7 separate regions of the Homo sapiens genome follow, and regions 1, 3, 4, 5, 6 and 7 are each linked to region 2. Evidence: fine-mapped expression QTL. A gene starts in region 2. Each other region holds a variant in brackets. All regions are shown on one strand. Distances are between the middles of the regions.

The links.
Region 1: its variant is fine-mapped to the expression of ITGB1BP1 in blood mononuclear cells (TOPMed, PIP 0.96).
Region 3: its variant is fine-mapped to the expression of ITGB1BP1 in whole blood (TOPMed, PIP above 0.99).
Region 4: its variant is fine-mapped to the expression of ITGB1BP1 in whole blood (INTERVAL, PIP 0.98).
Region 5: its variant is fine-mapped to the expression of ITGB1BP1 in pituitary (GTEx, PIP 0.93).
Region 6: its variant is fine-mapped to the expression of ITGB1BP1 in whole blood (TOPMed, PIP 0.94).
Region 7: its variant is fine-mapped to the expression of ITGB1BP1 in whole blood (TOPMed, PIP 0.95).

What each region holds. Positions count from the first base shown.
Region 1 is chr2:9,556,663-9,560,730 of GRCh38, reverse strand. No RefSeq gene overlaps it. Among named protein-coding and RNA genes, the nearest start is that of ADAM17, 2.9 kb to the right of the region's middle. RefSeq lists a silencer at 3,977-4,068. The variant C/G (reference allele first, on the strand shown) is at 1,982.
Region 2 is chr2:9,421,648-9,425,710 of GRCh38, reverse strand. It overlaps ITGB1BP1 (integrin subunit beta 1 binding protein 1), which reads left to right and starts at 2,183. Exons shown (of 7, transcript NM_004763.5): 1 at 2,183-2,338. It overlaps CPSF3 (cleavage and polyadenylation specific factor 3), which reads right to left and starts at 2,057. Exons shown (of 18, transcript NM_016207.4): 1 at 1,888-2,057. The coding sequence starts at 1,937. RefSeq lists enhancers at 1,821-1,870, 1,911-1,960, 2,831-2,880, 2,874-3,732 and a silencer at 2,391-2,690.
Region 3 is chr2:9,490,672-9,494,739 of GRCh38, reverse strand. ADAM17 (ADAM metallopeptidase domain 17) reads left to right here. Exons shown (of 19, transcript NM_003183.6): 15 at 1-103; 16 at 915-993; 17 at 1,754-1,842; 18 at 3,589-3,639. It also overlaps a transcript of IAH1 not described here. Among named protein-coding and RNA genes, the nearest start is that of IAH1, 18 kb to the right of the region's middle. The variant A/G (reference allele first, on the strand shown) is at 1,725.
Region 4 is chr2:9,299,517-9,303,584 of GRCh38, reverse strand. All of the region lies in intron 3 of ASAP2 (ArfGAP with SH3 domain, ankyrin repeat and PH domain 2), which reads right to left. Among named protein-coding and RNA genes, the nearest start is that of ASAP2, 95 kb to the right of the region's middle. RefSeq lists an enhancer at 3,434-3,933. The variant G/A (reference allele first, on the strand shown) is at 2,435.
Region 5 is chr2:9,463,065-9,467,132 of GRCh38, reverse strand. The region is part of intron 15 of CPSF3 (cleavage and polyadenylation specific factor 3); the gene reads right to left. Among named protein-coding and RNA genes, the nearest start is that of IAH1, 9.5 kb to the left of the region's middle. The variant C/T (reference allele first, on the strand shown) is at 1,566.
Region 6 is chr2:9,549,933-9,554,000 of GRCh38, reverse strand. All of the region lies in intron 1 of ADAM17 (ADAM metallopeptidase domain 17), which reads left to right. Among named protein-coding and RNA genes, the nearest start is that of ADAM17, 3.9 kb to the left of the region's middle. The variant C/T (reference allele first, on the strand shown) is at 2,078.
Region 7 is chr2:9,478,361-9,482,428 of GRCh38, reverse strand. IAH1 (isoamyl acetate hydrolyzing esterase 1 (putative)) reads right to left here. Exons shown (of 6, transcript NM_001039613.3): 3 at 4,059-4,068; 4 at 982-1,143. Among named protein-coding and RNA genes, the nearest start is that of IAH1, 5.8 kb to the right of the region's middle. The variant T/A (reference allele first, on the strand shown) is at 2,271.

The sequences.
Region 1 (4,068 bases), 140 kb before region 2:
TCAAGGGAGAGAGGCAGGGATTTAAGAAGGAAAAGAACAGACACAGCTCCATATTTTATGTGGCATACAATATGTAGGATGTATGATACTTCTGCACACAATGGTGGTTCATATCAGTGGGATGTGGTGGCTCACACCTGTAATCCTAGCACCTTAGGAGGCCGAGGTGGGTGGATCGCTTGAGCCCAGGAATTCGAGACCAACCTGGGCAACATGGTGAAACCCTGTCTCTAAAAAAAAAAAAGAAAGAAAGGAGACTTTATAACAATTAAAAAAAATTCCCCCCAAAATCATCTGTTCATCAGTGAGGATCTGCAGATGTCTCTGCTTTGTCCCATGCATATTTGTCATTTTTCTAAAAGGTTGATTTTGCCCGGGCACGGTGGCTTATGCCTGTAATCCCAGCACTTTGGGAGGCCGAGGTGGGCGGATCATGAGGTCAAGAGATTGAAACCATCCTGGACAATATGGTGAAACCCCGTCTCTACTAAAAATACAAAAATTAGCTGGGCGTGGTGGCGCATGCCTGTAGTCCCAGCTACTCGGGAGGCTGAGGCAGGAGAATCACTTGAACCCGGGAGGCGGAGGTTGCAGTGAGCTGAGATCGCGCCACTGCACTCCAGCCTGGCGACAGAGCAAGACTCCGTCTCAAAAAAAAAAAAAAAAAAAAGGTTGATTTTTTCTAAAATGGGTTAAAATTTCTTAACCAAAACCTTAGAAATTAGAGTTCTTGGCACATGACTTTGTATAAAGTCCTATTTTTCATTAAGTGGCATCTGTTGTCTTATTTGTGGGTTGACTCATACTTAAAGCGACTGCTTTCCACAGATTTGTTCATCAGCAAAAAAGCATACAAATGCAGGAATAATTACCATTTTAGAAACAGTGAGGATGGCTCTATCCATCTATAAAAACTGGTGGGGTTGGTGTAAGACAAAATTGGCTAATAAGAGAAATAGAGCTAGAGAAATAGATAGAAGGAAACAAAACACCCAGCCAGAACCAGTTAGTTCTCTGGTCATTTAGACAAGGTTTTACTGGTACTTGTGTGGGTTTGGTAGTTAACTGCAGAACCATATGTGGCTCATGTGTTTAATAACTGCAAATGTTTACTCTTAAATTCACTTGCGGTATCTAAATTATGAATAATTAATTCCACAGCATGGGATTGGGGAACCTCAGGAAATATTTTTAATTATCTTTATTAAATCCTAAATTAAAAGCATCACTTCAGGTGTTAAGAACCCAGGATCCCATCAACTTGTTTACGTATTTTTTTGAACAGATGATAGTGGCTGTGTAACAAATTACCCCTAATTTAGGAGCTTTAGAACCACGAACACTTATCTCCCAGCTTCTGAGGCTGAGGAATCTGGGAGTAGCTTAGTTATAGTCAGATGGTAGGTCAGGGGCTGCAGTGATCTTAAAGCTTGCCTGGGGCTGAATTCCTTCCAAGCTCACTCACATAGTCTTTGGCAGCTCCTTGGTGTTTGTTGGCTGCTGACCTGTTCTATTGGACCTCTCCATAGTTTTCCTGAGTGTTCTCATGACATGAAAGCTGGCTTCCCCCAGAGTGTGTGATTCAAGAGGAAACAAGCAAGCAAGAGAGCACCTGAGATGGAGGACAGAGTTTCTTGTGTCCTAACCTCAGAAGTGACATCACTTCGGCTGCATGCTAGTGGTCACAGACCAACTATGGCCCAGTGTAGAAGAGGAAGCAGGCATCATTGGGGGCCATCTTGGAGGCTGGGCTACCACTGTGGCTGTCAAATCTTTGAGGTATTTATACTCTATTGGAAAACTTTAAAATAATGACCTAACAGCTTTAATTTTAAATGTCAGTATTTATGCTGAAAGTTTCATAATTTGCTACTACTACGCTAATGATGAAAAACTTTAAAGATACACCTAGGGGGTATATAGTTGTTTTTTTTTTTGAGATGGAGTCTCCCTCTGTCGCCCAGGCTGGAGTGCAGTGGCG[C/G]TATCTCGGCTCATTGCAACCCCCACCTCCAGGGTTCAAGTGATTCTCCTGCCTCAGCCTCCCAAGTAGCTTGGACTACAGGCACGTGCCACTGCGCTGGCTAATTTTTTGTATTTTTAGTAGAGACGGGGTTTCACCGTGTTAGCCAGGATGGTCTTGATCTCCTGACCTCGTGATCCGCCTGCCTCGGCCTCCCAAAGTGCTGGGATTACAGGTGTGAGCCACCACGTCTGGCCAGGGGGTATATAGTTTTAAAAAATTATTTTGGTGCTGAGTGCAGTGGCTCATACCTGTAATCCCAGCACTCTGGGAGGCCAGGAGTTTGAGATCAGCCTGAGGAACATAGCGAGACTCCACTTCTATAAAAAAAATGTAAAGATTAGCCAGGTGTGGTGGTGCATGCCTGTGGTCCCAGCTACTGAGGAGGGTGAGGCTGGAGGATTGCTTGAGCCCAGGAGGTCGAGACTGCAGTGAGCTGTGATTGTGTCACGGTACTCCATCCTTGGCTGCAGAGCCAGACCGTCTCAAAAGATAAAAGAGCCGGGCGCGGTGGCTCATGCCTGTAATCCCAGCACTTTGGAGGCCAAGGCGGGCAGATCACGAGGTCAGGAGATCCAGACCAGTCTGGCCAACATGGTGAAACCCTGTCTCTACTGAAAATACAAAAATTAGCTGGGCATGGTGGCGCACAACTGTAGTCCCACCTACTTGGGAGGCTGAGGCAGGAGAATCCCTTGAACCTGGGAGGCAGAAGCTGCAGTGAGCCAAGATCATGCCACTGCACTCCAGCCTGGCAACAGAGCAAGACTCCGTCTCAAAAAAAAAAAAAAAAAAAAAAAAAGATAAACTAATTAATCTATCCAGTGCCCCTCTTACCATATTCCTTTGGCTCTTTATCTCCCCCACGTGGTGCTCTTTTATCTTAAAAGTATGCACAATTGATAAATGAAAGATGAACTGCAAATTGGAATAATTTGGGTCCTGATTTGTGAATTGAAAAGATTACTTGAAATTTGGAATGTCCCTGGAAATCTAGGACTTCTGGTTATTCAGGCCAGGCGCGGTGGCTCACGCTTATAATCCTGGCACTTTGGGAGGCCGAGGCGGGTGGATCACCTAAGGTCAGGAGTTTGAGACCAGCCTGGCCAACGTGGTGAAATGCCATCTCTACTAAAAATACAAAAATTAGCTGGGCGTGGTGGCGGGCGCCTGTAATCCCAGTTACTTGGGAGGCTGAGACAGGAGAATCGCTTAAACCTAGGAGGTGTTCAGTCGGTTGTAGTGGGCCAAGATCACGCCATTGCACTCCAGCCTGGGCAATAAGAGCGAAACTCTTTCCCCCACCACCCCCCCCCAAAAAAAAGAAAAGAAAATGGATCGGGATTTTTTTTTTAAACGGCATTTACTAAACAGCTAAGTACCTTCTATGAGCAAGGCACTGTACAAGAGCTGTTGGGGATACCAAAATAATACAATCTACGATCTACTAAAGTTACAAGCCGGACATTATGGTGACTGGATGTTCAGAAAAGAAACCAGATGACATTATTATGGTACACCAAAAAAGCCCCCCAAAAACCGTACTCAACTGTCACATTCTTATGGAATACAATTTTTACAGATTGTATACAATTTGCATGTGAAATTCTGCTTACTTTTTGACTAGGTATGCCACTAATGGGTATGTTTAATAAAGATATTTTATACTTCAGATGTACAGACCAGGTCCGGTTAATTTTAGCCAACAATGTATTGTTGAAAAAGACGCTGATATTTTACTGCGGCAAACCACCATTAACATAAATTTTAACCACAGTTTGAGTATTTTATTAGGAATAAGCCTTGAAACTTGAATAGGACTAGTATTCCTAACAATTTACCGTTTCATAATAAAGGCTGTCTCACTCTTAAGTGGAAAACGTATTATGTCCTACTTTTATAAACTTTGGTTGAACTAAATAAAACAGCAACATGTACCCAACGTTTTTAGACTGTTTTATTCAGTACCATAAACATTCACTAAACTATACAGAGCTAAAATCATGCAAAAGATTGCAAAACAAACTGCCTTGGGAAATTTCCAGTCT
Region 2 (4,063 bases):
TCCCAAATTTACTCCAGAGTTGCCCCATCTCTTATACTCCTTGAGTGAATAACACTACCCTTTCCCAACTGCCAAACTTAGGAATCTGATCATAACATCCTCTCTGCCCTGCCTTCCCTCCCCACAACCACCCTTCCAGATACAGCTGATCAGCCACAAAATCCTGAAGATCTCATTTGCATACTCTCTCACACTCACATCACTCACTACAGGCTCTCGTCAGCTAGACTTAGAATCTTTCAATATCTCACTGAATCTGCTCTACTCAATCCATGCTTTTATTCATCCATGCTTTTATTCATCTGCTACACTGCTGCCAGGAGAGATTTTCCTAAAACATAATTCCCACAATATCCATGCTTGCTTAATAGCCTTCGCTGGCTCCCTGTAATTGACTTGATAAAGGTCCAAACTCCTGTGTATACGAGGTGCTTCCTAAACTGGACCTCAACTGCCTGTCGCTTCATCTGCTAACTCAACTCTTTAGCTACAGCCATGAGGAATCTGGCCACAAGCTGTGACCACTCTCACTTTCATATGTGCCACTTCCACTGCCTAGAACATCCTGGGCCCCCCAGTCTTTAACTCCTACTCATTCTTTAGGACTCAGCTCAGGCATCACATTTTTCAGGATCCACGAGGTATCCTTTTTTCCTCAATCTGTCAGAAATCCCTTTTCCATACTTTCACAGTGCTCAGTGCAATGCCTGCCTGCGTTCTTAGATTAGCTATTATTTACAAAGCACCTACCGCGATGTTCACTCTTCAAGTTTTATCTTATTTCCATATGAGAAAACGGGTTCAGTGAGATTGTTGTCCTACTAATTGGTCAAGTAGATAATGGACTTCAGGTCTGACTTCAAAGTAATAGTCTCCTATTATTCCAAAGTATCTCTCCAATATTTCCCACTGTGCACTGTAATTCTCTCCAAAAGAGCGAGAGCAATTAACTGGGCCCTCTGTTGCGTCTATATCCCCATGTGTGGTGCTTGACACTTGCTCAGTGTTTGCTCATCACAGGAAGACATGACAGGTGTGAACTAAGCAGAAGGAAACGGACTATGTCCCAAGCAGGTGCTCAATGAAGCCTTACTGAATGATTGTGTAAAGGAGATACTTTCTACCTTTTGGAAAGCGTATATTCATGTTGTGCCAACTAGTATCTAACAATAAACATGTTGTGGGTTCGAAATGCTCATCTGTAGGAATTCAAGTTCTCTACATTTGCATCTCCCCTTCAGCAGCATTCCCGACTGATGAGGATCGTGTCCACTGAAAGGCCACTCTCCTTATGGACAGTCGAGGGCTGAGTTTTTGTCCCTAACACCTCTGCACTTTCTCTTCTCCAGCTTTACACCTTCCTTATTCTACTAGGGCCTGAGCTGAGAAGATCGAAACTCACGGCAAGTCCCTAATATTTTCTAACTTCTGGCACATGTGAAGCCCTGGTGTTAAGAAACAGACTTAATTCTTCCCTGCACGGCTGTAGCCTCATTCAGGTCCTCCTCTCATCCTGTCGGTCATAAGCTTCACCGGCTCCCTCACAGCTTGCCCTGACGCGCAGAGATCCGTGCTTGTGCTAAGTGAAAACGCTTCTTAGCGTGTACGAAAGCGAGCGGTGGCCCCGTAAAACTTTTTTTTTTCCGACTCCAACATACCCTCCCCTGAAACTGATGAAAAAGCAAAATCCCGTTCACTCTATAGCAGGCCCCTTCCGATCAACGGTCCTCCAACCCCTCGAGCCTGAGAAGCCTGGCCCGCAAGCGCGGACCAAAGGCAGGCTGCCGGGGTAGGTGGGAGCGCGGGCGACGGAGGAGGCCAGTCTCCGGTTACCCCTCGCGCCCCTCACAGCCCGTGGCTTCATTCCCTCTCTCGCTGGTCCCTTACAGGGGTCGGATCAGCAGCTGGTCGCTCTCCTCAGCAGGAATCGCAGACATCCCGAAAGTGTGAGGGCGAAGCGGGGGTGAGGAACAGGTCGCCGGGGTCTTCCTAAATTGGAAGCACAGCCACCGGTAAATAAAAAAGGAAGAACCCCATTCACCAAGAGCACAACTTCCGTCACTCCGGAGCCCGCGGCACTAGACTCCTCCCCTCGACTTCCGGTCGGGGGACGCCGCTCGCGAGGCTTCCCACCACTTGGGGTCTTGGAACCGGGGGTAGGACGTCAGGACTGCGCCTGCGCATAGTCTTGGAGGCGCGGCCCGGCGGACGTGGGCAGGAGGGCTGGAAAAGCCGGCGCTGGAGCGGGAACGGGAGTAGCTGCCTGGGCGCCAAAGGCCGCGGCACTCCCACGCGGACCCCGAAGTCCGCAACCCGGGGATGGGCCCGCGGCTGCGAGGTGAGCGCCCAGCCCTCGTCCCGCTTGGGGCCGAGCTCGCGGAGGCCTGACGGGAACACGGTCCCGAGAGCGGCGCGGACGGCCAGGAAGGATGGGTGGGGCCGCGGGGCGGGCGGAGGAGGGATGCCTGGGCTCGGGCTTGGTTCCGGGCGGGGCCGCGCTCCCGGGGCGCGGGTGGAGGAGCTTGGAACCACGCAGATCGGGCGTGGGCTTGCGGACTGCAGCTTCCCGAGCCGCTGTCGCCCCGGAGGGGCGGCAAGGCGGGCGGCCGCGGGCCGTTTCCTTGCCTCTTCCTCTGCCCCGCTTCGGCCGCCTCCCGCCTCTCAGGGTCGGGGTTGTCTGTCCCCTTCGCTGTCACATCCTCCGCACCCAGCGCTTGGAAGGTGCTCCATCACGGTGACAGACAGGTGCCAAGCAGGCTGGCGTCTGGGAGGAACTTCGGAGCCGGCTCTCCCTAGGCCCCGAGCTTGGCCGCATCCGTCCTTACTCTGGTGACCCTGGGCAGGTCACTGACTCTTCGGGCGCTTTGGCATCCTCGTTTGAAAGGGGCTGTTATCCTGCAGCCTTGCTGGTCGGTGAGGGTGAGGGTGAGAGGGATCTGTGCACCTAGCACCGTGCATGGCACGTGGTAGGCGTTTGGTACATGGGAATCGCTGTTGGGGTGTCACCTCCCCAGAAAGTTCTCGGCTTCAGTAAGCGCGTCCCCTGCCAGGCGCCCTGGCAATGCAGAGGAGTCACCGAGCTCCGCCTTTGACCAGCGTGCAGCTGGGAGAGTGAGATCAGAGACCACAGCAGATCGTGGCGCTGTGATCAGGGGGTACACTCAAGCTGTGGGTCCCTTACCCCAGCCTTGAGATCCCAGGAAGGCCTGCAGCCTGAAACGGGCCTTGAAAGGTAAGAAGTAGCCAAGTGCCTGACAGGTGAAGGACGTCCCGGGCGGTGCAAAGCAGGGGCGCGTGGAGCATCGCGCTGAGAACCAGGAGCAGCTTTGCCTTGCTGAGATCAATGAACTGTGCCCGGGTTGTGGAGGATGGAAGTGGAAAGGTGATTAGGAGCTGGGTCCTGGAGGACCTGGCGTGTCGTGCTGAAGAACGTTGACTTTGGTCTCTGACTTTGGAGAACCAGTGAAAGATTTTCAGCAGGCTAGTGGCATTAGATTCATGTTTGAAAGAAATCATTTTAATCGTTTTGGCTGCAGTGTGGGGGTAGATTTAAAGTGTTAGGGAATCCAGTAGGACAAGGTCCCTTATCCACGAAATATCCTTGGGTTTGTGAATTCCTTAAATTCATGCCAAACTTTGTATGGATGTGCATTTTTATAGGGTGAGGATCCATCACATTCATCAGTTTCTAAAAAAATAGTGTCTGTGCCCATGGTTTAGGATGACGGGGGCCCTGGTGGAGAGCTGGCTCAGAGAGCTCTTCAGGTGGGGTATACAGTGGGTCTTGGTGCCAGATTGGATGTGGGGCCTGAAGGACAGCAAGGAAATCATGATTTTCTGGCTTCCTCCAGCAATAATAGAATCTCCTGACAGGGAGAGGAGAGGAGAGGAGCAGATCTGGAGGGGAGGATGATGGGTTCAGCTTGAGACATCTTTGCATTTGATGAGCCTGCGGAGCATCCAATCGCCAATCAGGATCATTGGCCTCATTTTGATGCATGAATAATTTTTTTTTTTTTTTTTTGAGACGGAGTCTCGCTCTTTCGTCCAGGCTGGAGTGCAG
Region 3 (4,068 bases), 69 kb before region 2:
CAGGGACCTTTCTGGCCGCTGTGTGCCCTATGTCGATGCTGAACAAAAGAACTTATTTTTGAGGAAAGGAAAGCCCTGTACAGTAGGATTTTGTGACATGAATGTGAGTATTTATGTACAGCTTTTTCTGTAACAGCCAGATAGGAAGTTTTTATTTTGTAAGTACTTGATTTTGCAGATGAAAACAAATCAAAACACAAGTGGGGCTACATCCTTCTGGCCCATTGTTATCTACGGGTATTACTTAGGAGGAGAAGACGGAGTGCTTTCAGGTCCCTGCCTGTAGTTTCCTTCTGTGGTGGGAGGCTTTGAGCCCAGAGACTGAGAAGGACTGGGGTGGGGACTTTATGGTAAAGTTGGTTGGTTTCAGGCAGTGGGTCCTAATTATGTTTTCCTAGATTACTTACAGAACTGACTAAGATTGCAAAATTATTCAGGGTGTGATTTTGAAACAGGTGCTGAATGAGTAGGAAAGACCTAGAAGGCTGCTTGACTTACTTAAGCCAGACCCTTTTGTTCTCTAGAGAAGCATAATTTTTCTCATGCAGAATGATGGGAGAGGGTTTTAAGATTTACGAGGCTTCACAGGGAGTCTGGCTGTGTTGTTCACTGTCCACTGTGTATGTGTAGAGTCCTTACTGGAATGCCTCATCTTTAGCAAACTGGTTTCCTTGATTTTTGTCTCCTGGTAATTCTAAATCACTTGTAAAAATGGAGTAATTATGAAAGTGTTAATGACAGATGTTCTACTTTCTTGGGTACTCATTACGCGGAAGTTATTGCCTTGTGTCAAAGATGGGAAAACGTTTGATTTTAATGAAGCCCTTTACATGTCAGTTATTTTTATAAAGCTACATTGCTTCTGAATACATTGTGTTTGGGAATGATGCTGTATGTATGTTTTTTCTTCATAGGGCAAATGTGAGAAACGAGTACAGGATGTAATTGAACGATTTTGGGATTTCATTGACCAGCTGAGCATCAATACTTTTGGTAGGTGATTTCCCCAGATTACTTACTGAGAGCTGAGTCAATTTCTGTGATGACATTAGAAAAGTGTGCTTTCAGAGTGATGTGCTTTAATTCTGCAGTAGAAGGTGGAACTATTCACAGCTTTAGTTATGAAACAACTTTGTTGGCTAGAATAAAATGAACTCATAGATAGTCTGTCCCCGTGGAGCTTGGATGCACAGATTTTCTGACAAGGGAAATAAAGTCAAAATACTGGCTTCCTTCTTTACCCAAAAATATCCATGTGATTAGCATAAGCATAGTTTAATGCTATAGACTGAATCCTGATTGATGTAAGAGTGTTTATTTGACTGAATGCTATATACTGAATCCTGCTTGATGTAAAAGTGAGCCTCATATTTTGCAGAAGCAGGGTATATCATGTTGTCACGAGTCCATAATTTAATCACAAAAATAATATCCAGGTAACAAAAACTTTGTCTTCTTAAGCATTTACTAGTAGTAGCATTCCATATTAATCTGTTGACACAGCTACTCCAGGTAACATGTTGAATATTCTGCAATCTCTTCCTGTCAGCCAGTATATGAGGGCTATTTCTTTAAAAGCACTTGGTATGGAGAGATGGTGTGGTGTAATACAGGCAGCACAGACATTCTGCTCTCGGTAGTATGTCTAGCCAGCAGCTCTGGCATTTGACACAATGGTAATATCCTAAGAGCATTTCACTTTAGATTTGTGAAGTACTTGGTCA[A/G]GACATTAACTGTTTGGAATTGTTCACAGGAAAGTTTTTAGCAGACAACATCGTTGGGTCTGTCCTGGTTTTCTCCTTGATATTTTGGATTCCTTTCAGCATTCTTGTCCATTGTGTGGTAAGTCATCAACTTTTAAGTAATTAAATGTTTTATTTAAATTTTGATCAACTCCAACCATGTAATCTCTGGAAAAGGTAAAACTTGTTCTTAGCAAAGTTTGGCCTGATATTTCCAATAGCTTTTTTTGTTGTTATTCCTAGGGGAACATGTCTTGTAGAAAGCTTAACTAATGGTCTTTTAAAAAAAATACTATTTTTGTGTGTTGGTGTTTTAATATATAAATTTCTTAGGAATTTTATACTTTTAAGCATAGGAGACTGTTTAACTGGATTTGTCCAGGTCCTTTGATGAGTAAAGCCCTTATTGAAGAGCATTTTCAGGCTGACTTCGTTGCAATAGAGCAAATATCAAACATCGGCATTTCAGATGTTCCCCATATATCATGTAGATTATTGGCAGCAGATGGCTATGTCTTCAGCCTTCTGCACAAATAGGATGTAGGGACTGGGGCCCAGCTGTCATATAGAGTATTTACATCTTCCCCAAAAAATAAGAGTAAGCAGTCTTTTCTGTTCTCATTCAGAATCAGTAACAGCTACAAGTTGAATTGGGCTTTGACTAAGGAACTCCTGGTCCTTTATAAATTTGAGGCCCTTTTTCATAAATGTTCTTACGAATCCATTCACTTGCATCTGTGGGGAATGGGGATTTGTCTGCTGTAGAGATGAGAAAGTCACACCCAGGCTTCCAGACTTGTTTTCCCAAACTCTTTCATAGTGGCCTTCCTATGAGCATTTAAAAATTCCAGCACAACTCTGATGACAAAGGAGTTTTTCCTACTGCCTCCTTCCTTTCCTTTCCTGCTGGCTTCTCCTGCCTAGGGGCCATCTCACAGAGCAGCTCTTCCTCAGGGTGGTGAGCATGATGGGTATAGGAAGATCTCTAGGGAGCACTTGTGCTGAAGAAAGCTGAAGGTGACGTGCTTGAAGCTTTGACAGATGTCTCTGGATGACAGTGCCATCCATCACGATTGCTTCTATTGGAGGATGGAACCTATTTTGTTTACAGGGAAGTTGCACATGTGGACAAGGCACGACCCTTGATTTCAGAGCAAAGCCTCCGATAGGAGGGAGGGCCATGGCTTGTTTTTGGTCATAGAATGCATTGATGGCACCCAGACAGGAAGCCTAGTCCTGGATTCTTGGTCCTTGCCCTCTGTCACCTATTATGCTTCAGCCACAGGCAGGGATGGGGCAGCAGATGGCCATGTGGTTAGCCTTCTGCAGAAGTAGGATGTAGGGATTGAGGCCCAGTTCCTCCAGCAGAGCATGGTCCACAGAAACTGTGGAGACAGCTAAGAGAGTGAGGCCATGGGCCGGGGCAGTGCGAAGAATGCTGCAGGCCCAGCCACCTGGGTCTTCCTACCAGTTGCCCTTCCAGTCAGTGCGGTCCTGGTGTACCCAGCATCTGGGACATTTGTCATTTCATGCACAGGAAGATGCCTTTATTATTCCCCTGCCCACAGAGGGATAAATTTCTCAGAAAACATAGCACTTAAACCTTGCCTCTTTCTGTACTTAACGCCAAAATGTATTTCCTTTGAGTGCAAAGGAAACACTTCTAGACTGGTGGCATAACTAAAGCTTGGGTGAGAAATGGATTGTCATCTGTTGAGCCTGCTATCACTTTCTACAACTCAGGTTCTAAGTTCTTCAGTTAGTGTTAGGAATAGCCTGTGATGAAATAGTACTCACTAACTGAATTGTATTTGTAGGGAATGACCTTCTTGCTGTTTCTTTCTAGGATAAGAAATTGGATAAACAGTATGAATCTCTGTCTCTGTTTCACCCCAGTGTAAGTATACCATATGAAAGAAACATAATCTTCGCCTGGTCTGAGGCCCTGTTAGGCAAAGACCTTCACCTGACCCAGCAAGAGCTTTCACTGGCTGATGGAAGGTCATGTTGCAGCAGGAAGGGTCTAGGTTGGAATGTTTACCCTTCTGACAACAGTGATGGTGAACTTCGATTAGTTGCATGGATGGACATTTAAAGAGCTGTGCTGTCCCCTTCCCAAGCCATAAGGAGTGATTTAGCCATTCAACACTTAGTTAATATTTTGAGTTCAATTTCTCTCTTGGGATCTTACCTTGAGAGGTTTGAATCCTCTTTTGGGTCTTCAAATGGTAAGTAAGTTTTCAGGATGCTTGAAAGCTAGTAATTACTGTTTTTGCCATTAAAAGTAATGGCATTAATTACTTTTGCACCAACCTAGTATTTTTTA
Region 4 (4,068 bases), 120 kb after region 2:
AATGGCAGAGGTTTCTAGGGGCCCAAAGCGACTGTCAGCAAGTCCATCAAGGTACTCTCTCTCCCCTCCTCACTCAAAGCCCTAGCCCTCAAGCCCTCCTCAAGCGAAGCCTATGGACTCCTAATTTGCACCCAAGTCTAACAAGCCAAGTCACCTTGCTCTTCAGCTCGCAGCATCGTGAAACAGAGACCTTAGAGGCACCCAAGCACTGACAGCAGGAAAAAGGGCAACCAATAGAAAAAGTGTCAGAATATTAAAAAGCAAATGTCAGAAACGGACACCTAATAATAGTCCAGGACTAATCCAAGGGCGGATATTCCCACGTACCCCAAGCCACTGGGGATGTCTCTAGATTTCAGCATAGTTCATTAGTTTATGTCTAAAACAGTGACTTAAATCTTCCTCCCAAAAAGATGATACTATGATCATTGCTCTTGTTTAATTAAAAAACAAAGTAAGACATTTAAGAATCTAAGACATTTGCAATACAAGAAGTTAGGAGAAAGTCTATGGAAGTACTGAGGGTGAGGACCTCTGGTAGCAAGATGTCTATATTGAGTGACGAGACAAGCCTTACTAATATGGACAATCAGCTCACACTTAACCTAAGCCTGACAGCACTGGGCAGAGTCCTGCTGTACTAGTACCAATGCAGCCAAGCCAGGATGCCCCTCTGCCAGGTGCAGCACATATGAGAAAGCCACAAACTACTGCTTGTCCCAACAGAACCTTACTACCTCCCTAGTAAGGTTAGCTATAATGTCTTCTGACCAGGCGTGGTGGCTCACACCTGTAATCCCAGTACTTTGGTATTACAGGTGGTGGCTCACACCTGTAATCCCAGTACTTTGGGAGACCCAGGCGGGTGGATCACTTGAGGTCAGGAGTTCGAGACCAGCCTGGCCAACATGGAGAAACCCCGTCTGTACTAAAAATACAAAACTTAGCTGGGTGTGGTGGCTCGCGCCTATAATCCCAGCTACTTGGGAGGCTGAGGCACAAGAATAGCTGGAACCCGGGAGGCGGAGGCTGCAGTGAGCCAAGATCGTGCCACTGCACTCTAGCTTGGGCGACACAGTGAGACTCTGTTTCAAACAAACAAACAAAAAAAGTTGGCCAGGCATGGTGGCTCATGCCTGCAATCCTAGCACTTTGGGAGGCCGAGGTGGGCAGATCACGAGGTCAGGAATTCAAGACCAGCCTGGCCAATACAGTCAAACTCCGTCTCTGCTAAAAATATAAAAATTAGCTGGGCATGGTGGCACGTGCCTGTAGTCCCAGCTACTCGGGAGGCTGAGGCAGAAGGATCGCTTGAACGCGAGAGGCAGAGGCTGCAGTGAGCCAAGACTGCACCACTGCGCTCCAGCCTGGGCGACAGAGCGAGACTCCGTCTCAAAAAAAAAAAAAAAAAAAAAGGCTTCTAACTCACATCATCTGTGTTTGGGAAAAAAAAAAAAAAAAAGGCCGGGCGCGGTGGCTCACGCCTGTAATCCCTGCACTTTGGGAGGCCAAGGCGGGTGGATCACGAGGTCAGGAGATCGAGACCATCCTGGCTAACGTGGTGAAACCCCATCTCTACTAAAAATACCAAAAACTAGCCGGGCATGGCGGTGGGCACCTGTAGTCCCAGCTACATGTGAGGCTGAGGCAGGAGAATGGCATGAACCTGGGAGGCAGAGCTTGCAGAGAGCTGAGATTGTGCCACTGCACTCCAGCCTGGACAACAGAACGAGACTCCGTCTCAAAAAAAAAAAAAAAAAAAAAGATGATGGATACACACGTTGCTTGGTAGAGCTTTCCATTTCCTCTATCAACATGGGTGAGGGAAAACTCCTTAGCCCAGGGTCACCTCAGATCTCATGCTGCAACTCTGTCCTCTCCTCAGCACCCATTGGCTCCTGCTTTCAATGGATGCTGATCTTCATGTGGAGCGGGTTCTGCAGACCGTGAGGACATCTTTCACTAACAATCCTCTAACACTGGAGACAGAGACTACATATCTGTAACAAACCTTTCAGAAACCTGCCCTGAAATGCAGCCTTTCATTAGAAAGCCACTTCTCAGCACAGAGGTGGCCCTTGGAGTCTTTCCAGGATTCTCACATCCATTGGGGAAGAGGAAAAGAACCCCTGAAACTAGGCTGACTTCATAAGCACTTTAATTTCACACATGTCACATTTCTGGAGCCGTCTGGTTTTCCCTTTCATCCTGCATCACCGCAGAGAAAATTCACAGACTTCTGCAGGTGAGAATCTCACCCATTAGTAAGAAAATCTTGCTTTATATTAAGCTGGCATTTCTCTGGAGATCTTCCAACTGCTTTATAAACATTCTTTCACGCCTCCAAGCAGGTAGGTGGTAATTGTTATTCTTTCTGGACAAGAGGTAGCACTGTGAGTCTTAGCCAGACAGAACTGAAATGTTTTAAATGCCC[G/A]AGGGAAAGCAAAAGCAAGGCTTGGAAGATATGAGATAAGCCAGATGTGACCAAAAACAGGAAGAAGAATGGTGCACAAAATTCCAAAAAAGGAGACTTCCGCCATAATCCGCTCCCCATTTGCCCAGCTTTGCAGGAGCCGCCACTGGGCCTTCCTCTGGCTGTGCAGCTTCCACACCGGCGCTGGCCTGGAAAACCAGGCATGGTGAGTGCTAATTTTGGCTCATGTAAGAAATTTTCTCTCTCTTTGATCTTTGCCAGGAAATAGGATCAACAATCCGACTTCCATAAAGTGCAAGTTGAAACTTGAACCCTTATGATCAGTCAAGAAGGTGACAAGAGGCCATGGTTCCTTTAAATGTCACAATGACAACAACTTGGGTTTGGAGTGTTAATACCTGGGTTTGAATCCCAACTCTGTCCCTCACTAGCTAAGGGCCCTGTAAGTGACTGTGTGCCTTAAGAGGATGGTGATACAAACTATCCTGCACAGCTGCCAAGAGGAATAAATGAAACAGAGTATCCTTCATGCATAGCCCAGTGATTGCTACACCGGTGGGTGCTCATCAAATCACTGCCACAGATACCTTTATTGATACCTTTACTCTCTGTAGAAAGCTGGACAGCAACTAGGACCTGCAGTGATATGTGAAGTATTAAAAACTGGCAAAGCCACAGGGTGGTGAGCAATGTACCAGCTGTAACATGCAGGCCCTGCTCTGCTTTCTGCTTTTGCAGGAAATTTTATAAAGGAGAAGGAGGGATTCCTTTTATTTAACTATGCAGCTGCCCTTTTGTTAACTGAGACAAGTTAGTTTCGTCCGGATTCCATGGTGTGGAGTGCTCCAAGTGGGCCTGCCTAGGCAAGGACTCTGAGCCTCCCAAGAGAGATATTAGCTGCTGCTTCTTTTGTTTTTGAGACAGGGTCTCACTCTCTGTCGCCCAGGTGGAGTACAGGGGCGTGATGTCAGCTCACTGCAATCTCCGCTTCCTGGGCTTAAGCAATTCTTCAGCCTCAGCCTCCCGAGTAGCAGGGACTACAGCCGTGAGCCACCACGCCTGGCTAAGTTTTGTATTTTTTTGTAGAAACAGGGGTTCCCCATGTTGCCCAGGCTGGTCTTGAACTCCTGGGTTCAAAGCAACCCGCCCACCTTGGCCTCCCAAAGTGCTGGGATGACACATGTGAGCCACTGTGCCGGGCCAGATATTAGCTCTTCAAACCATTCAGGGCCTCAGTTATCTAATCTGTAAAGTGGGGATGACATTGACTGACCTTATGGGATTGTCATAAGAATTAAGTAAGCTATCCTGTGTAAGAGTCACCGGCTGGCTATAATCTATCCACACAATCAGGTATGGTATTATTATCTCCATGTTACAGCTGAGACAATCCAGGTCTAGATATCAGCTGAATAAAGGTAAAAGGGCAGTCTGGGAGTGAGAAGCAGAACCCGGGCCTCCACCCGTCTCCTACGTCGTCAGCCGTCCTGGGCTGGCTGCTTTCTAGGCCCCCTGCTTGGCAGCCCCGCTGGGACTTCCCTTCGCCATGATCCTCTTGGAATTCCCTTCCACTGCTTGCTTTCCTGTGTTGGGTCCTGTTTCCTGACTCTCAATTTCTTCTTTCTTGGCTTTTC
Region 5 (4,068 bases), 41 kb before region 2:
CATTCAACAACTCAGTGCATCAACAGTAGCAAAAGAGTGCAGAGCTCACAGTCTGGCACTTCCTCAGAAAGTTAAACAGTGAGCATTTGACCTAGTAATTCTACTCCTAGGTACAGATCCAAGAGAAATGAAAACATATGTCTGCAGAAAAACTTACATCCAAATCTCCACGGTAGCACTATTCATAAAACCCATAAAATAGAAACAACCGAAGTATCCATTAACAGATGAATGGATAAACAAAATGTGTTGTGTCCATACAATGGGAAATTATTTGGCCATAAAAAGGAAGGAAGTACCAATTTATGTGACAACACGGATGAAACTTGAACACAGCATAGTGAAGGAAACCAGTCATCAAAGGCTATATATTGTATGATTCCATTTATCTGAAACGCTGAGAACAGGCAAATCCAGGGAGGCAGGAAGTAGATTAGTGGTTGCTTTGAGTTGGTGAGAATATAGAGATTGGGGCATCATACGTAAGGGATATGGGGTTCCTTTTCGGAGGTGTGCATTTATTTATTTATTTATTTAGAGACAGGGTCTTGCACTGTTGCCCAGGATGGACTGTAGTGGTATGATCACGGCTCACTGTAGCCTTCACCTCTGTGCTCTGGTGATCCTCTCACCTCAGCCTCCCAGGTAGCTGGGACTACATGCATGCATCACCATGCCCAGCTAATTTTGTGTGTGTGCGCGTGTGTGCGCGTGTGCGTGTGTGCGCGTGCGTGTGTGTGCGCGTGTGTGCGAGTGCGTGGGTGTGTGCGTGTGTGTGTGCGCGCGCGCGCGTGTGTGCGTGCGTCTGTGTGCGTGCGTCAGTGTGCGTGTGCATGCGTCTGTGTGCGCACGTGTGTGCGTGCGTCTTTGTGTGCGTGTGTGCGCGTGCGTGCGCGCACGTGTGTGTGTGCGTGCGTGTGTGCGCGTGTGTGTGTGAGCGCGTGTGTGTGTGCGTGTAGAGACAGGGTTTTAGCATGTTGCCCAAGTTGGTCTCAAACTCCTGGGTTCAAGCAATCTGCTCCCCTGTGCCTCCCAAAGTGCTGGGATTACAGGTGTGAGCCACCATGTCTGGCCTGGTGTGATGTAAATGTTTTAAAGTTGATTGTGGTGATGGTTGTACAACTCTGAATATGCTAAAAAATCATTGAATTCTACACTTTATATGGATGAATTGTATGGTATGTGAATTATGTATCAATAATGCTGTTACAAAGAGTAGTGCAGAATTTTAAAATCCTTCAGACAACACACACACACACACCCCATATATATGGATATTGTCATCATTTCATTTCATGTTCATAACAGACTTCACTTTACAAAAGGGCTATCAGAATATAATGAAGAGAAGGCAACCTTGGTGGCATTTGATTGGGATTGAACAGACTAAGATAGGAAGTGAAGGCCAGCTGAGCTCTTAGAAGGATGGGGGGCCTTAAGAGTTGAAAGCTGGGCTGGCCCAAATGTGAAAATCTCAAGTTTGGATGGGAAGAAGTCAGTTTGATAAATAATAAATATACATAACCAATTTCCTCTTTTATATATTTTTTATATATAAACGCGCG[C/T]GCGTGTGTGTGTGTGTGTGTGTGTATGATATGGGGGAAAATACCAGAAATAATCTTATGGCCTCACCTATAAACAGGAAAATATAATATAAGACTGTAATTTCTTTCTTCTTTTTTTCCCTTAGAAACAATGTCTCGCTCTGTTGCCCAGGCTGGAGTGCGGTGGTGCAATCATAGCTCACTGTAACCTTGAACTCCTGGGCTCAAGTGATCCTCTCATCTCAGCCTCTCAAGTAGCTAGGCCTGTACGTGTGTGCTACCGTGCCTGGCTAAGACTCTGTCATTTCAAAGAGACTTCAAAAATTATGATTTCTTCAATGCACTTTCAATTTCCCAGCCCAAGTAATTACTTTCTCATGTAACACTATGACTTTTTAAAATATTGTATCATGTAAGTGTAGCTTTATTAACTCACTTCTGCACTCCCACATACCTATTTCAATCTACTCTACGGAAAAGACTCAACTTGTCATTTCTCCTAAACTATTCTAGAATTCAAACCATACTTCATCTAATTCTTTTTAATTCGTGAATTTCAATTGTATATACAACTAACTACTCGCCTGTAATCCCAGCACTTTGGGAGGCTGAGAAGGGAAGACTGCTTGAGCCCAGGAGTTGGAGACCAGCCTTGGCAACATAGCAAGACCCCATCTCCATTAAAAAAAAATAGTAAGCCCAGGTGCAGTGGCTCACACCTGGAATCCTAGCACTCTGGGAGGCCAAGGTGGGCAGATCTCTTGAGCTCAGGCATTTGAGACTAGCCTAGGCCACATGGTGAAACCCTGTCTCTATAAAAATAGAAAAATTAGCCAGGCGTGGTGATGTGCGTCTATAGTCCCAGCTACTTGTGGGGGCTGAGGTGGGAGGACCACTTGAGCCCAGGAGGTCGAGGCTGCAGTGAGCTGAGATTGCACCACTGTACTCAAGTCTGCGACACAGTGAGACCCTGTCTCAAAAAATAAAATAAAGTAAAATAAAAATAAAAATATTAAAAAAACACAAAAACAAAAAACTAACCAGGTGCTAGCCAAGAAAACTATATAACAGAATTTTATACTTTAATTATAATCATTAGTTTCATTAATTACTAAAATAAGCACTTAATTGACATGTAAAAACAATCTCACAAAATATATTACAAAATAAATATCTAGGCTATGAAACTATCAAAAGAAACTTTCCAAAGTTTACGTGTGTATATATATGTATATATATATTTGCAAATTCCTGCATTAATATTTAGACAAACTCATCAGACACGAGATCATATTAAACACAGAACTATACAATCAGACAGGTATACCTGTCCTTAGTAGGTCTGTGTGTCAAAACAGGACACACACATGCTGAAAACAGGTGCCATGTAAAATAGAAGAATGTTATGGAATATAAAAACAAAATAATGTATTTTGAAAATATATAAGATTTCCCCTTTGGTTAAGAATGGGGACACATAAATTGTGGTTGGTTAGACACACACACACACACACACACATACACCACAGATACAAATACAAGTTGTGTTTCCAGAATCTGGACTGAAGTGTCAGGAGGCTAAGAAATGAAAAGGGAGAAAAATGCCATCAAGGAAGAATCGGATTGTTTCACAGAGGTGCCTTGAGAAGAGGGCAACTTTTTCTGTAAATGGCCAGATGGCATTCTAGGCTTTGTAAACCACAGGGTCGCTGTTGCAATGACTCAGTTCTGCTGCTGTAGCAGGAAAGAGGCATCAGAGATGATGAACCAGTGCGCACGGCTGTGTTTCGGTAACACTATACTTACCAAAGCAGGCGGGCTAGGTGTGGCTTGTGGGCCACAGTCGCTGACTCTGCTCTAAATGTGAAAATCCCAAGTTTGGATAGGAAGAAGTCAGTTCGATAAATAATAAATATACAGAATCAACTTCCTCATGAGCAGCATAAGTGTCACATGTACCAGTTCTTGCAATACTTGTCACCTTTGAAAGGAGCAAGTGCTACTTATTAAAACCTGTCACTTAGCCCCACGAGTGACAACTGTCCATGCTGACATATCACATACATACCCTGGATCATTATCTTAAAGTTCATCCTGTCTGTTCTCTTTCTGTCACCACTTACAGCTAATCCAACAGGAAATACTGCTGGCTTTATTAGAACACCTCCAGAATCCAGCACTTTGCGATATCCCCATGACTTCCACCCTAATCTGAGCCACTGTCTGCCACCTGGATGACTGAAGAAGCTCCCAGCTGGAGCCTCTGCTTTCTTGCTTGCCCTCCTAACAGTACTTTCAGCAAGCACCACGGCAGTCCTTTAAAAACTCCGTCAGATCCTGTCTCAGCCCCGCTCAAAGCTCTGCAGCATAGCCTCATTTTACTCACACTGAAAGTCTGAGGTCCTTACAATAGCCAACAAGACCCTATGGGATCTGCCCAACTCCAAACCCTATCAGGAAGCCCTGGGACATGCCAGAATGTCAGATCCTTGGAGGGGGCAGATCTGTTTGCTTTGTTCACTGA
Region 6 (4,068 bases), 130 kb before region 2:
ACCTCCGCCTCCCGGGGTTCAAGCAGTTCACCTGCCTTAGCCTCCTGAGTAGCTGGGATTACAGGCATGTGCCACCACGCCCAGCTAATTTTTGTATTCCTAGTAGAGACGGGGTTTCACCATGTTGGCCAGGCTGGTCTAGAACTCTTGACCTCGTGATCCGCCCACCTGGGCCTCCCTAAGTGCTGGGATTACAGGCATGAACCACCGCTCCTGGCCCATGTGTTTGTTTTTTATTTGCAAAATGCAGACCACCTGTGCCAGAAGAATGCATAGACTTTTCTTTTTTCTTTTCTTTTCTTTTTCTTTCTTTTTTTTTTTTTTTGAGGCAGTGTTTTGCTCTTGTTGCCCAGGCTGGAGTGCAATGGCGTCATCTCAGCTCACCACAACCTCCGCCTCCCGGGTTCAAGCAATTCTCCTGCCTCAGCCTCCCAAGTAGCTGGGATTACAGGCATGTGCCACCACGTCCGGCTAATTTTTTGTATTTTTAGTAGAGATGGGGTTTCTCCATGTTATTCAGGCTGGTCTCGAACTCCTGACCTCAGGTGATCAGCACACCTCGGCCTCCCAAAGTGCTGGGATTAAAGGCTTGAGCCACCAGGCCCGGCCTCTTTTTTTTTTTTTAAACGAAATATTTGAAGGACACACAAGTATTATACGTGGCATTGGAAATACAAAGATCAGACGATATCCATCTTCAAATGGTTATAGCATAGGGAAATAGACATTCATTTAGGACACTTCTAAAACAGCATAGAGGAGAGTGCTAGAGTACGTTATAGCAAGTGTTATCACCAAATGAATCTTAGAGATCAAGTCTAGTTTTCAAATAAAGGAGGAGGAAAATGAGTCTCAGGAAGATGCTGTCAGTTGTCAATGATGAACATAGGCCTTGTGGGTATTTTTCTTTTGAAGAATGACTTTTTTTTTCAGTTTGTTTGACAGCTTACAATATAATTTGTTACTTAACCTTACCATTAGATTGAGTTGGTCAAGACTAGCAAATAGTTTCATAGTTGAAAAACATGCTTTATTATTTATTTTTTATGTTTATTGTCCTACAAATACTACTATATTGCAGTACTCAATATCGATTAGGCATATGACAACATTTTTCTGAAAGGCAAAAAATACCTAATAAAATGAAGCCTGGTTTTTAGAGTCCTCTATGGGTCACCAAAAATGATTTCAATTGAACTGTTATGAATTGCATAATTTAGGAAAGTTATGAGTCATATGAGCTTAGTCATGATGATATCTTGTTGAAGTTGCAGCTGGGGTGTATAAGTCTCACTTTGATTTCAAAATCGTTTTCCCTTTGTGTTACTTTTAATAAAAGAGGATGTAGTGGGTGGGAGGAAAAAATATAGGTCACAGATGAGGGATGAGAAAGTTTGTATCTGAAACATGTATTTTCAAATTTACCTTGAGGTTATTGGCATGGGGATTCTCCATATTGCAGTGCTGATTTCATTATTGACAGCACCATTTTACTCAGTATTTTGACATCTGGCTTTCTCTTTTGATGTTAATTTTGCTTACTGGCTGCATTCCTTTGAAACCTAAATGCTTAACTGCCCTAACTGCTCCAAGGGAGATTTAATGTAACTCTGCTTTATATTAGTCTAAGAGATAAACCATATTTCAAGAGTAGAATGGAGAGGAATTAAGCAGATAATTGTGATGGGGAAACTGGAGAGATCCTTTTGACTTTCACAGGATTTCCTAGAACATTAAATATAGGTTTCCTCCAAGGCCAATTGTGGTTGATTTTTGGATCCTTCACCATTTTCTATTTGTGAGATAATAAGTGTATACAGCTGGAAGTGTAATGTGAAGAAAGTCTGAAAAAGATTGATAGGAAAGGAGGACAGGAATGGGCTTCATTGAGGTAACGGAAGTGAAATGAAAGGCTTTTCATATATGGGTTGAGCATCCCTAATCTGAAATGCTCCAAAATTTGAAACTTTTTGAATGCTGGCATGACAGCACACATTACCCCTAACACACGATTTTTTCACTGTTAGTGGTATATTTTTTACTGTGTAGTACTTATGTGTGAATAGGTATAACAAAA[C/T]GATTACTTATTGTAGCATGTAAAATCAGTCAGGAATGATGGTGATGCCAGACAACCACAGATTATTTATGTGGGTGGCCGAGACAGTGACACCTTTGCTTTCGAATGCTTCGTTGTACACAAACTTTTTTTCATGCAAAAAAAGTTACTTAAAAATATTGTTTAGGCCAGGCGCGGTGGCTCATGCCTGTAATCCCAGCACTTTGGGAGGCCGAGCTGGGTGGATCACGAGGTCAGGAGATCGAGACCATCCTGGCTAACATGGTGAAACCCTGTCTGTACTAAAAATACAAAAAATTAGCCAGGTGTGGTAGCAGGCGCCTGTAGTCCCAGCTACTCGGGAGGCTGAGGCAGGAGAATGGTGTGAACCTGGGAGGTGGAGCTTGCAGTGAGCCGAGATCGCGCCACTGCACTCCAGCCTGGGCGACAGAGCAAGACTCCATCTCAAAGTAAGTGAATAAATGAAACATAAATGAATTTTATATTTAGACTTGGGTCCCATCCCCAAGATACCTCATTATGTATATGCAAATATTTCAAAATTTAAAAAATTCTGATGAATGAAACACTTCTGGTCTCAAGCATTTTGGATAAGGGATGCTCAATCTGTATCTCTTTATTTACTCCTAAAATCAGCCAAGGAAATGGGCATCTCTCCGTTCCCCCCCTTCCTTTTTTTTTTTTCTTTGTTGTTACATGAGTTGTACTGGTTTCACTTCATTTGACAGTGTTCTGCTAATGACTAGACGTGTATCTCTGACCTGGACTTGTTCTCTGGAGTTCATATTCAGCTGCCCATTTGGCACTTCAAATATAACATGTCCAAAATTAGTTACCTTTTTTTTTTTTTTGAGACAGAGTCTCACTGTCACCCAGGCTGGAGCGCAGTGGCGCAATCTTGGCTTACTGCAACCTCCACTTCCCAGGTTCAAGTGATTCTCGTGCCTCAGCCTCACGAATAGCTGGGATTACAGGTGTCCCCCACCACGCCTGGCTAATTTTTTTTTTTTTTTTTTTTTTGTATTTTTAGTAGAGATGGGGTTTCATCATATTGGACAGGCCTGTGTTGAACTCCTGACCTCTGGTGATCCACCTGCCTCAGCCTCCCAAAGTGCTGGGATTACAGACGTGAACCACTGCCCCAGCCAGTTACCTATTCTTTTGATTACAAGAATGAGTAGCTGGACACAGTGGCTTACACCTATAGTCCCAGCACTTTGGGAGGCTGAGGCCGGCGGATGACTTGAGGCCAGGAGTTCAAGACCAGCTTGACCAACATGGTGAAACCTGTCTCTACTAAAAATACAAAAATTAGCCAGGCGTGGTGGTGCGTGCCTGTAATCCCAGCTACTGGGGAGACTGAGGCAGGAGAATTGCTTGAACCCGGGAGGCAGAGGTTGCAGTGTGCCAAGGTTGAGCCACTGCAGTGCAGCCTGGGCAGCAGAGTGAGACTCCATCTCAAAAAAAAAAAAAAAAAAAAAAAAGAATGAGTATCGGATACAGGTTTAGCCTAGGACTAGGCAGGGCTGCTGGTAATTGTGGAAGTAGTCTCATTGCCTAACCTGAAACTTGCATCCTGGTTACTGGTCTTGCTGGAGAGTCTTGGCTCAGGTTACGTCCCAGGTCTGTTGAGGAGCTCTTGATAGGGAATTAGTTGAAGCAGCTCATACTCTATCCTCCTTTACTGGTATAAATCCATAAAATTGTTTAGTTCCCAGGCTCTGGGGTCCCTGGCCTAGCAGAGAGCACTGCTCCCTTTTTCTCATTCCTTAGTCCCAACAACCCGCACCTGACACTTACTACACGTGGCCTGCTTCCCTGTCCTGTGTGTTTTGGGGGGTGCTGAAGAGGAAGGCTCCTGTGTCTTCAGCACAAACACAATAAACACTTCACAGCAGTACTGGCTTTATGTTTTCCATTTCTGATATCAGAAGTAGGAGCATGACATTGATAGTGTCATTTTGGGGGAACTTTTCGTACTTCATGCAGCA
Region 7 (4,068 bases), 57 kb before region 2:
AACTCAGAGTCAGACCACACTTTGAGAAATAGCTGTTCTGTGTTGCAAAGCCAGTCATTTGTCCTAGAATGTTGAGTTCTGGGCAGCTTAGAAAACTTCCAGTCCAGGAACGGTGGCTCACGCCTGTAATCCCAGCACTTTGGGAGGCTGAGTCGGGCAGATTACCTGAGGTCAGGAGTTCGAGACCAGCCTGGCCAACATGGTGAAACCCGTCTCTACTAAAAATGCAAAAATTAGCCGGGCGTGGTGGTGCACACCCATAATCCCAGCTACTCAGGAGGCTGAGGCAGAATTGCTTGAGCCCAGGAGGCAAAGGTTGCAGTGAGCCGAGATCGTGCCACTGCACTCCAGCCTGGCTGACAGAGCCAGACTCTATCTCCAAAAAAAAAAAAAAAAGAGAACTTCCATAATGCACATTTTCAACATTAACATACAGCTGACCCTTGAACAACACAGGTTTGAACCGTGAAGGTCCACTTATGTGCAGAGGTTTTTCAGTCAAAGGTGGATTGAAAACACAGCACTTGAGGGATGTGAAACCCAAGTATATGGAGTGCTGGCGACTCCTATCTGATCATTCCTACCCCCAGCTTCTGTGGACCAGTAAAAAGCCCCAGGTGTGGACTTCCAAGTCAAGGCACATCAGCATCAGCCCCCGCAGGCCGAGCACCACAGCTCTACACAGATCTCAGTGGCCTTCATGTGCACCCTGGAGTCTGGTAACTGTAAAGGTCAGCAGATGCCAGGCCCGCGGTTCCCTCCTGACTATCCAAAGCCAGAATCCCTTTTCTAGGTCAAAAAAGGTCTCAGGTATAACATAATGGAAGCTATAATTTAATAATTTTGGATTGAAAACAGACTGAAATGGACATACCGAGCCCCTAAGAAACAGAAGCCCCAGGCAGGAAACCACTGTCCTATCAGAGTTCCTCCCTCAGCATTCCTATCCAGATTTGCCGAGATTGGCTGTGGTTTGTTTACCTTGTATGATGCACTGTTCTTCCCAGGCTGTTTCACAAAGTGGGGTCGGCGTGATGAGAATGACTCGATTCTCAGGGATGTCCACGGACTTCAGGTACTGCACCATGCTCTTTAGGTTCGCAGCGTACTCCTCCAGGGGAATGTGCTGCTTGGGATTCTCATCTGCTCAAGAGAAACATGAGTCCTCACCAGATGCATATTTATTATAAGTGACAATTCAGGTGAACACACTTCTGCAAATGCCTGTTATTCATGATGTCACTGGGGGGATTGTTTAACACCAAGGACACAAAGAGAAGGTTTTCTCCTTATGAATTAAAATGTATAGTTCTTCATAAAACAAGACTTCAAAGGCTCTAACTAGGGGCACCGTAAGTACTCTTGTCTTTTCGTCACTAGTATCCAGATGGTTATTACATCAATTAGGTTGAATTTGTAAAGAAATTAAAGAGCCCACCCTGTTGGGTGAGACGGCCTAGGTTCAAATCCTGGCTTTGTCACTCCTCGCCACAGAACCGCAGATAAATACTTAGACTTTCTGTACCTCATTGGGAAAATGAAGATAATAAGGTCTCCCTCCTAGGACTGAAAATCAAAACAGCTAAGAGTTTACAGCACTGAGAGCAGTGTGCCTTCACAAAGCAAGCACTCAGTCTAAACAAATGGCACCCACGAATACTACTATTATTGCAAAGGAGTATTTTCTAGATAGGCTCTCACTGAAGTATTACAAGGGTCATTGTTTACCATTTGCTAACCACATGTAAGTACAGTATAAAGGAAAAAAGTCACCAATGTTCCTACCACCCAGAAAACCACTGTTGGCATTTGGATGTATATCTTTCCGGTCTTTTCATGAAGATACATACACTTTTAAAAAAATGAGTTTGCACTGAAGATTATATTCACACTGAAGACTTCATATTTTGCTTTTCTCTACAAATTGTTTTAGAGACAGGTTCTCGCTCCATCACCTAGGCTGGAGTGTAGTGTGATCACAGCTCACTGTAACCTTGAACTCCTGGGGCCAAGCGACCCTCCCACACCTCAGCTTCCTAAGTACTGGGACTACAGGCACGCAACACCACACTAGGCAAACTTTGTTGTTATTGAGACAGAGTCTCACTCTGTTGCCCAGGCTGGTCTCAAACTCCTGGCCTGGCCTCCAGTGTTGGGATTACAGGCATGAGCCACCACGCCTGGCTCACATAACATATTATGAGCTTTTCTGTGTCCATAAATAGTTTGCAAAAAAATGAAATTTAGTTGTAGGGTGACCACATGATGTT[T/A]CCGTACTGTACAGCTTGTAATCTACTGTTATATATAAATAGCAATACACGGCCAGGTGCGGTTGCTCATGCCTGAAATCCTAGCACTTTGGGAGGCCGAGGCAGGTGGATCACCTGAGGTCAGGAGTTCAAGACCAGCCTGACCAACATGGGGAAACCCTGTCTCTACTAAAAATACAAAAATTAGCCAGGCGTGGTGGCGAGCGCCTATAATCCCAGCTACTCGGGAGGCTGAAGCAGGAGAATCATTTGAACCTGGGAGGTGGAGGTTACAGTGAGCCGAGACCGTATCACTTCATTCCAGCCTAGGCAAGAGTGTGAAACTGTCAAAAAAAAAAAAAAAAAAAAAAAAAAAAAAAAAAAGCAATACACAGAAATCTCCGCACACACATCTGGCTGCGTATCTGAATATTTCCTTAGGTTGAATTTCTACACGTGGGCCGTCCCTTGGCGCATATTGCCACACAGCTTTCCAGAGGATCACAAGCTATTCTCTCACCAGGAATGTAAGAGTTCCAATCTTATTTCATGCGTGTCAGCTGTAAGTATTACTGCTTCATATTGCTTTTCTGAGTCAAAAAATCAAAATACCTTGTTTTAATTGGCATTTTTTGATAAGTTTTCACACATTTTCAAATATGTATTTGCTGTTAAATTTCGCCTTTTATCTATTCCTGTCCTTTGCCTACATTTTCTATTGGAGTTGGTATTTTTCTTATTGATTTCTACACTAAAGACATTACTCTCTTGTCTGCCACATTTTGCAGATATTTTCCTTAACACATCATTTTCTTCTTCAGTTTTTTCGCAGCCTATTTTATTTCATAAACCTGTTTTTCCTCTGTGGCTTCCTCCACTGCTCTTATACTTAGGAAGTGTTTTTTCCTTATGCTAAATTTGATAAAAATTTATCTTTTTAAAAAATTCTGTTTTGAGTTTTCTTATGGTTTTTGGTACAAGATAGAAAGTGAAGATTAATTTCTTCCCAAATATAATGGTTAGTGTGCAGTCTCCACCGATACCTGTCATCTACGTAATCTTTCTCCTAGAGAGCAAGAATTCCTCTTACTGCAGTTGGTGTTCCTTCATGTCCAGCCTCAACTCAGAGGTCTCCTACGGTGTGCCCGTGAATAGCAGACCACAGCACTTCTGTGACACAAGTAGGGTAACAAAAGAAATCTCTGGAAGGTGACTACCTAACTTCCCAAAACAAAGGCTGATTTTTCTCGTCGATAGCACGCAGAAGGCTTTTTTCAAGAGTAGAAGGGGAAGAAAGGCCTCTTACATGGCTAGCTTTCCTCTAGTCACAGCAGCAATTCTTCAGCAGTCAAGGAGAGACCATCTCCTTTTCCAAACCCACGTTCACCATTGCCCAGGATTCAAGCCTAACTGAGGTCAGGGTGGCTGCTGCCCTGACATATCCCTCCCTAAGACACGCCACCAGCTGCCATCAGTGTGATGCAAGCCACAAGGTATCCTTAAGCTTTCTGCTGCCAAATGCATCAACTAAAGAGAACACATTACAAACTTAGCATAGCACTAACAGACTCTAGAAAATATTTAACTGTTTGCAAGATTAGGACTGCCAGCAACCAAGGTATGTAGAAACTGAGTCAAGAATAAAATCCACCAGTGTTAAAGCCAGGAATACATATAAACAACATAAGTTTGGCAAAACTGTATCTATTGGGAGAAAGTAAACAGTTGAAAAAAGTATATTAAATGCAAGTTTGCTGTAACATAAAAATGATTAAAAGTGAGCTAGAAGAACATCAAAAATGCTTTTACCTTTTAGTGC